Linked DNA regions of Homo sapiens. The protein of the gene in region 2 interacts with the protein of the main gene of each other region in a pairwise test. Each region holds a gene or a part of one and is shown on either strand. Other genes may lie near its edges.

Region 1 (3,833 bases), on a different chromosome or scaffold from region 2:
TGCTTTCCTTTTTTTTTTTTTTTTTTGAGACAGAGTCTCATTCTGTCACAAAGGCTGGAGTGCAGTGGTGCAAACAGCTCACTGCGCAAACACAGCTCACTGCAGCCTCGACCTCCAGGGCTCAAGTGATCCTCAGCCTTCCATGTAGCTGGGATTATAGGCATTAGCCACTGTGCCCGGCCTAAACAGATGCTTTCTAAGTATATGTCTTTTACTATTATTTCAGTAAGAAAAATGAAACAGAAGAATTTTGTTTTATTAGAATAAAAAATTAAATGCAAAAATGTAATTTTTAACTTTAAAATGATTCAGTCTAATTAATACAGGTAAACATTTATGAATGTACTTAGGAATTAACCAATGAATAATTTTCAAATTATAGCTATTAAGACAAAAAGGCGAATTGACTCAAATCTTAAAATTTTACTGTACTTAAGTCAAAGCAAAAAAAGTACCATCTTAGGTTTTTCTTCCTTTAGTGTGAAGAGGCGTTTCCACCAACCCACAGCTCTGCGTCGAGTTTTTACTAGATTGCTGCAAATTTCATGGAATCTTTGCTGTTGTTCAGTGGTCCTAGAAAAGAAATTTGCCTTTTGCTATAAACAAATCGTTACAGTAGACAAAAACATGACACCCTGTTCAATTTAAGAGCTATCTTCTAAAGAAAATAAAAATAAAAACAATGTTTCACCATTATCTTATGTAGGTGAAAAAATCCTTCCACCATTAAGACACCTTTTATAGCACAGGAGTAAGTATTTACATAAACTATGTGTGTGAGAGAGAGAGTGTGTGTGTGTGTGCGTGTGATAAAGAAAGGATCATCTCTGGCTCTGAAGCCACATTTATTTAATGGTAGTAAAAGACTCATGACTTCTATGGGCCATAAAGAAATCAGTATAAATTTGATTTTGCTATTCCTAAATATTCTTTAGATCCTAGTAAATGCTGCACTATACCTACCAGAATCCCACCGAACAACTGTATTTGAACACTCCTTAGTAAGATACTAACTACTGGCATTTAACACATAACACCCCCAACTGGGCTTCATACATCTGATGACAAGGCAGCAATAAACAGCTCAAATCTAAATTCTTCTTTGTAAATTTATCCCTAGGGAGGGAAAATATAATCAACAAACAACACAGCAGTAAAAATCCAACAAGAGACCCTCCAAGAAAACCTTTTATATTTATAATGTTTTTCTTGGTTCTGATTTTTTTAATTGCCTTTGCACTGTCTTCGCTACACAGCTATAATGGCTGCTATTATTGCCCTGTGCTGAGGGATGTGTTGCCTTCTCTTCTCTAGCCCTCATCTCTGTAAAACTGCAGTGATAGATAAAGTACAAGGATTTCTGCTGAGCCCTGGAACTTCTTTTCAACAATGAGATGTTATTTCTTGCCCATGGTCAAGGCTAGATTGTGGCTATGCAAAAGAGTATTCTTTCTTCCTTGTAAGATCAAAAAATAAACAAAATCTGCTCTATCAATAACTGAGTCACATCACGAAACTATCAGTGGTTATTTCTGCAAACTTTCCTCTAGGAGTTATAAATTAGCAGACTGGAATGTTATCTGGCTAATAAGGCCAAGGTCAGTGATTTATTTCCTTTGCTAACTCTGTTATACTGCACATTCAGAAACTTGCCCAAAAGAGCCAACAACATTGATTCATTACTGCAAGTGAAAAACAATTTGGACAGTTCCTAACACTAATCCATTCTGCTGTTGGGGGAAACACCTTTAAATATTGTCAATTATATCATAATTTAAGCAAACTTTGAATTTGTTCTTAAAGATCCATAAGGTACACATTTAAAATTCTTATATTTACAGAATTATTTTGCAATTTGCTATCCTCTGAGATACAAACAACCAAAGGCACAAGTAGAATACTAACCAAATAAAATAAACAGCCAAGGATAGAATAGCAGCTGAGAAGAAAATATCTATTCCAACTTCTATTTTGGCTGATTATTTGAATCAAAACTCAACATGCTAGAGAAAGTTAAAATACTTTTAATATGATCCTTATCCACTTAACTATATCTGAGGAGTTCATAAGCAACCTCATGGTATAAATAGGCCGGGCACGGTGGCTCACGCCTGTAATCTCAGCACTTTGGGAGGCCGAGGCGGGCGGATCACAAGGTCAGGAGATCGAGACCATCCTGGCTAACATGGTGAAACCCCGTCTCTACTAAAAATAAAAAAAAAAAAAATTAGCCAGGTGTGGTGGTGGGCACCTGTAGTCCCAGCTACTCGGGAGGCTGAGGCAAGAGAATGGCATGAACCTGGGAGGTGGAGCATGCAGTGAGCCAAGAGCGTACTGCACTCCAGCCTGGGCAACAGAGCGAGCCTCCATCTCAAAAAAAAAAAAAAAAAAGAGAATGGTATAAATAAAATCAGCAACCCATGTGTATACAGCTTGAACCTCTTCGGAAACACTTGGTATTCACTTTGTTAACTGCCATTCCACTGCCTCAGTGTCTCAGTATCTCAGCCTTAACACAAGATCAATCTTAAAAGTCAAAATATTTCACAGTACTTTACAGGGCCTGCCACAGTAGGCATTTAATAAATAATTGCTAAATGAATGTGAATGAAAATCTGCCAGTTTCCTTTTCTGTATTCATTCAAAAATAATTTGTGAAGTTATTATACTATCCTAAATATCAATGGAAATGTAAAAATGTATATGTGCATTTACCATAAAAGAACTATGGAGTACAGAAAATTCATAGTTTATATTCAAATCAGTTACAATATTCTTCACATAAAAGCAATAAATCTAATGCTTAGGTGTCTGATGGTTAGACAATTATCTCTGCTTATTTACAGCATACTAATCACAGCCACCAAGTTCAGTAACTACACAAAAATGAGACTGCCAAATCATTATGCTACCTACCATTTATTGGAGCCAAAAATTCTAGGCGCTAGAATGGGAACAAGGTAGTCAGCCAAGCACAAAAACATAACAAAACAGGAAACGCCGGACAGAACAGATGGATCTAGATAGTAGATAATCCTGTTAAAAAAATTAATAAAGGTTAGAAAAACATAGTCATTATTATTCCTAACTAAACATGTCTAACTTAACTATTCACTTAACTATTCACCGCCTCTCAGAGATATTTGCCATTTTTCTTCTAATTTTCTCACAAGTGGCTTTCCAGAGGCTTTGTGACATGCTGATATCATAGCTGCAGTGGTTAAGTATATATCAATGGACAAAAGCTCTTTGGAGTTCTCAGCACTTTTTTAAGAGTTTAGGGAGGTGGGGGACTAGGGGAGGGATAGCATTAGGAGAAATACCTAATGTAGATGAAGGGTTGATGGGTGCAGCAAACCACCATGGCACATGTATATATACCTATGTAACAAACCTGTACATTCTACACATGTTTCCCAGAACTTAAAGTATAATAACAAAAAAAGAGTTTAAGTGTCTGGAGGACAAAAAGTTTGCGAGTCACTGATTTACTCAAGTGCTTTAGGTTACCAAGTTTACAGAAGTACTACAAATTCTGGAAACTAGAAGTGCTTATGAGAAACATTCTTTATGGGTTCTTTATGGGTTATATATTACAGAAGACTTAAGGCACTCCCACAAACAGAAGCTATATATTAAAAAGTCTTTATTAATAAGAAGCACAACCCATAGTAATCTAATAGCTCACTTACAGAAACACCAAAGAAACCACACCCATGATGGCAGGTGGAAACCAGGCTCTTTCCCATCGGAGGACTTTATCAGCCATCAGCATCACTTCTCCCCATCCTTGCAGCTGTTCTTCCAGACTTGCAGTCTCTGCAGCCTAAATA
Region 2 (2,885 bases):
CAGACTGGTGTTTAATAGAAAACTTATTTGGCTATTGGCTGCTTTTTGACTTCAGCTGGAAGGAAGCTCAAACATAATATTTGGCTCATTTCCACATAAGACTAAGGGTTACTGACTCTGGTCTGAAGACTGCTTGCAGTTTAGTCGTCTGAGTGACTCCTGTGGCTGAGGATGTGCTGGGTGCTTAGAATCCAAAGGTCTGGCTAGGCTTAAGGGGTTCATGGTCTAGTTAGGGAGAAAAACATGGCAGATTTTCTTCTGTTTTTCTTGGGGCAAAATCAGATTTTACTGTTTAATAGTACAAAATTTTTGCAAAATTAGCAGATAATACTCATCATTTCTAACTTCTGAAATCTTTTGTTTAGGTGAGACATGGAATCCATTAAAATTGCATTATCAGTTAAGAAATGTACGGGAACGATTAGCTAAAAACCTGGTGGAAAAGGGTGTATTGACAACAGAGAAACAGAACTTCCTACTTTTTGACATGACAACACATCCCCTCACCAATAACAACATTAAGCAGCGCCTCATCAAGAAAGTACAGGAAGCCGTTCTTGACAAATGGGTGAATGACCCTCACCGCATGGACAGGCGCTTGCTGGCCCTCATTTACCTGGCTCATGCCTCGGACGTCCTGGAGAATGCTTTTGCTCCTCTTCTGGACGAGCAGTATGATTTGGCTACCAAGAGAGTGCGGCAGCTTCTCGACTTAGACCCTGAAGTGGAATGTCTGAAGGCCAACACCAATGAGGTTCTGTGGGCGGTGGTGGCGGCGTTCACCAAGTAACTCTGCTCGGGGTGAACCATTCTCCTTTCTCTCAAGTAAACCAGTAGTTTTTCTTCTGTTGACTTCTGGTTTTCTGTAATTTGTACTTTCCCACACTATAATTGGCTTCTGTTTTACAAAATGGTGGGTGGCTTTTTCTTTTTTGTACGTGTACAGGATTCTGCTGGTACGAGAGGCCTTCCTCTTTCTGTTTTTAAAAAAAGTTTTACTGCCATATTGGCATTCCATTCCCTGTTGCCATCCTCACTGTTACCTGTTTTGGGTTTCTGGTCTACTTTGACTTTCAAAGTACCTCCAGCCTCCTCATACGCACAGCTTTTGGATGACCTCAGCTTGAGTTTCTCCATATGTGCATGTACATCTAGCATTCTGCCTACAGTTCAGACAGAAGTCACAAAAAGGCCTTCAACTCACCAAAGGTAAATATCTGTATCTATTAGGACATTTTTTACATAGACTTCAGTTGAGATGTATACTTAGCAAAATTATTTTTAAATTGAAACAGCACAGTAAATACTTAATATAAAATGTCCCTTGGATTTTGCTTCCCATGTAAATCTATTGTATTATTACACTTGTTATAATTTTAACTATAAAGGTCCAATTGTTTCACAGAGCCAGTTTGGGATGGGCTGCATTCCATTTATGCTGTATATAGTTTGAATTATATATAAATTACCCCTTCTTCTGGCCACCCCTGCTCCCATCTTAGTATTTTGCAAGATCTAATCAGTTGTACACCTGGTGCCCCTCGCTTGCTTCAATCATGGTTATTTGATGGCAAAATCGACCTCTTGTCGCTGAAGGAGAGAGAAAAGATGTGTGTCTGATTGGTCCTGGGATTTTTTGAGCTGTGCCATTTATGGTACTCTTTGCCTATGCATCCCCTTGTTAGATTTTTTTTAAATTTTATCTTACTGTTTTTATAATTTCTATTGGGAAGAGGCTTGTGACCAGTACCAATCTTGAGTTTCTTTTTCTGTCCACAAGTAAATTAATATCTGCTCTGAAATGTCATTTATCTACTCACACATTCTTGGGGAAAAAAATCAAATGTCAGTCCTAGCAGATGTTGCATGTAAATTGGTAGCAAGTAATGATTACAACCCAGAGGATTAAGAATTTTGTAACAGAAAGCTCTATGTTTTAATTTTTTATATACAATTAGGATAATTAGCATTGTCAGACTATAAACCTTTGCTTTTTAAAGTTTATTTTTACTATTTCTTTATCACTTTATTGTATCATCACCATTGGTTTCATAATGTAAATACTATATGTTGAACAAATTAAATGTCAAAATTTTTTATTACCATAGTCCATGTTAATAGTGGGGCTTTCAGGTGTTTAGAGATTTTTTTTGTTGTTGTTAACATTCATTGCAAAAGTACTAGATGGTGTATAACTCTAGAGTTGAATTTTAAGGGATTCCCTAATATGTATACTATCTTTTTATCTGAAGTAATAAATAAACAATGATCTTGAAAGTGCCTGAATCAGAGCAAGCATGTCATTTGTGTTTTTGTATTCTCATTTAGTTTTCTTTCAAATGAAATGTTACTTACTGTAGCATTGTAATATTTTAATGCAGGGCTTGGGTTTCTTAAAGGGCCAGATAGTAGATATTTTAGGCTTTGTGAGCCGCCAGCTGTGTCAGTTGCAACTACTGAACTTTACTGAATGAAAACTGTTATAGATAATACAAATAAATAGGTTAGACTGTGTTCCAATAAAACTTTATTTGCAAAAACGGGGCTGGTCAAGGCCCCAGTTTTAATGCATGGAAAAAAGACAGATTTTTCTATCCATTGGAGTAACCTTCTTTACCTTCAAAAATGATACTGCTGGTGGTAACTACATGTAGGAACTATTAAAGTGTCTTCCCATAAAGTAGATATTGGGAAACTGATACCAGTATACTGGAATTTCTTATCGAGTGAAAAGTTCCTGTTTTTCACTTGAGAAGATGTTAGAGGTGAGGTAATAGATTTCTGAGGTATTCACTTCATCAGCAGCATCAGTATTCCCAAGCAAGGGGGAAAAGGACCTCACCTGAACTTCTGTCAGTGTTTGCATTAGACCAGAGTGCACACTT

What was found.
Region 1: the proteins of GOLPH3 (region 2) and ARL6IP1 interact in binary tests that used the Homo sapiens proteins (3 or more experiments, as listed by UniProt).

The regions. Positions count from the first base shown.
Region 1 is NC_000016.10:18,795,009-18,798,841, forward strand, and holds part of ARL6IP1 (ADP-ribosylation factor-like protein 6-interacting protein 1), read right to left. Parts: intron 3,827-3,833; coding exon 3,693-3,826; intron 3,037-3,692; coding exon 2,917-3,036; intron 574-2,916; coding exon 456-573; intron 1-455. UniProt on the Homo sapiens protein: Positively regulates SLC1A1/EAAC1-mediated glutamate transport by increasing its affinity for glutamate in a PKC activity-dependent manner.
Region 2 is NC_000005.10:32,124,117-32,127,001, reverse strand, and holds the end of GOLPH3 (Golgi phosphoprotein 3), read left to right. Parts: intron 1-365; coding exon 366-790; 3' UTR 791-2,286; downstream 2,287-2,885. UniProt on the Homo sapiens protein: Phosphatidylinositol-4-phosphate-binding protein that links Golgi membranes to the cytoskeleton and may participate in the tensile force required for vesicle budding from the Golgi.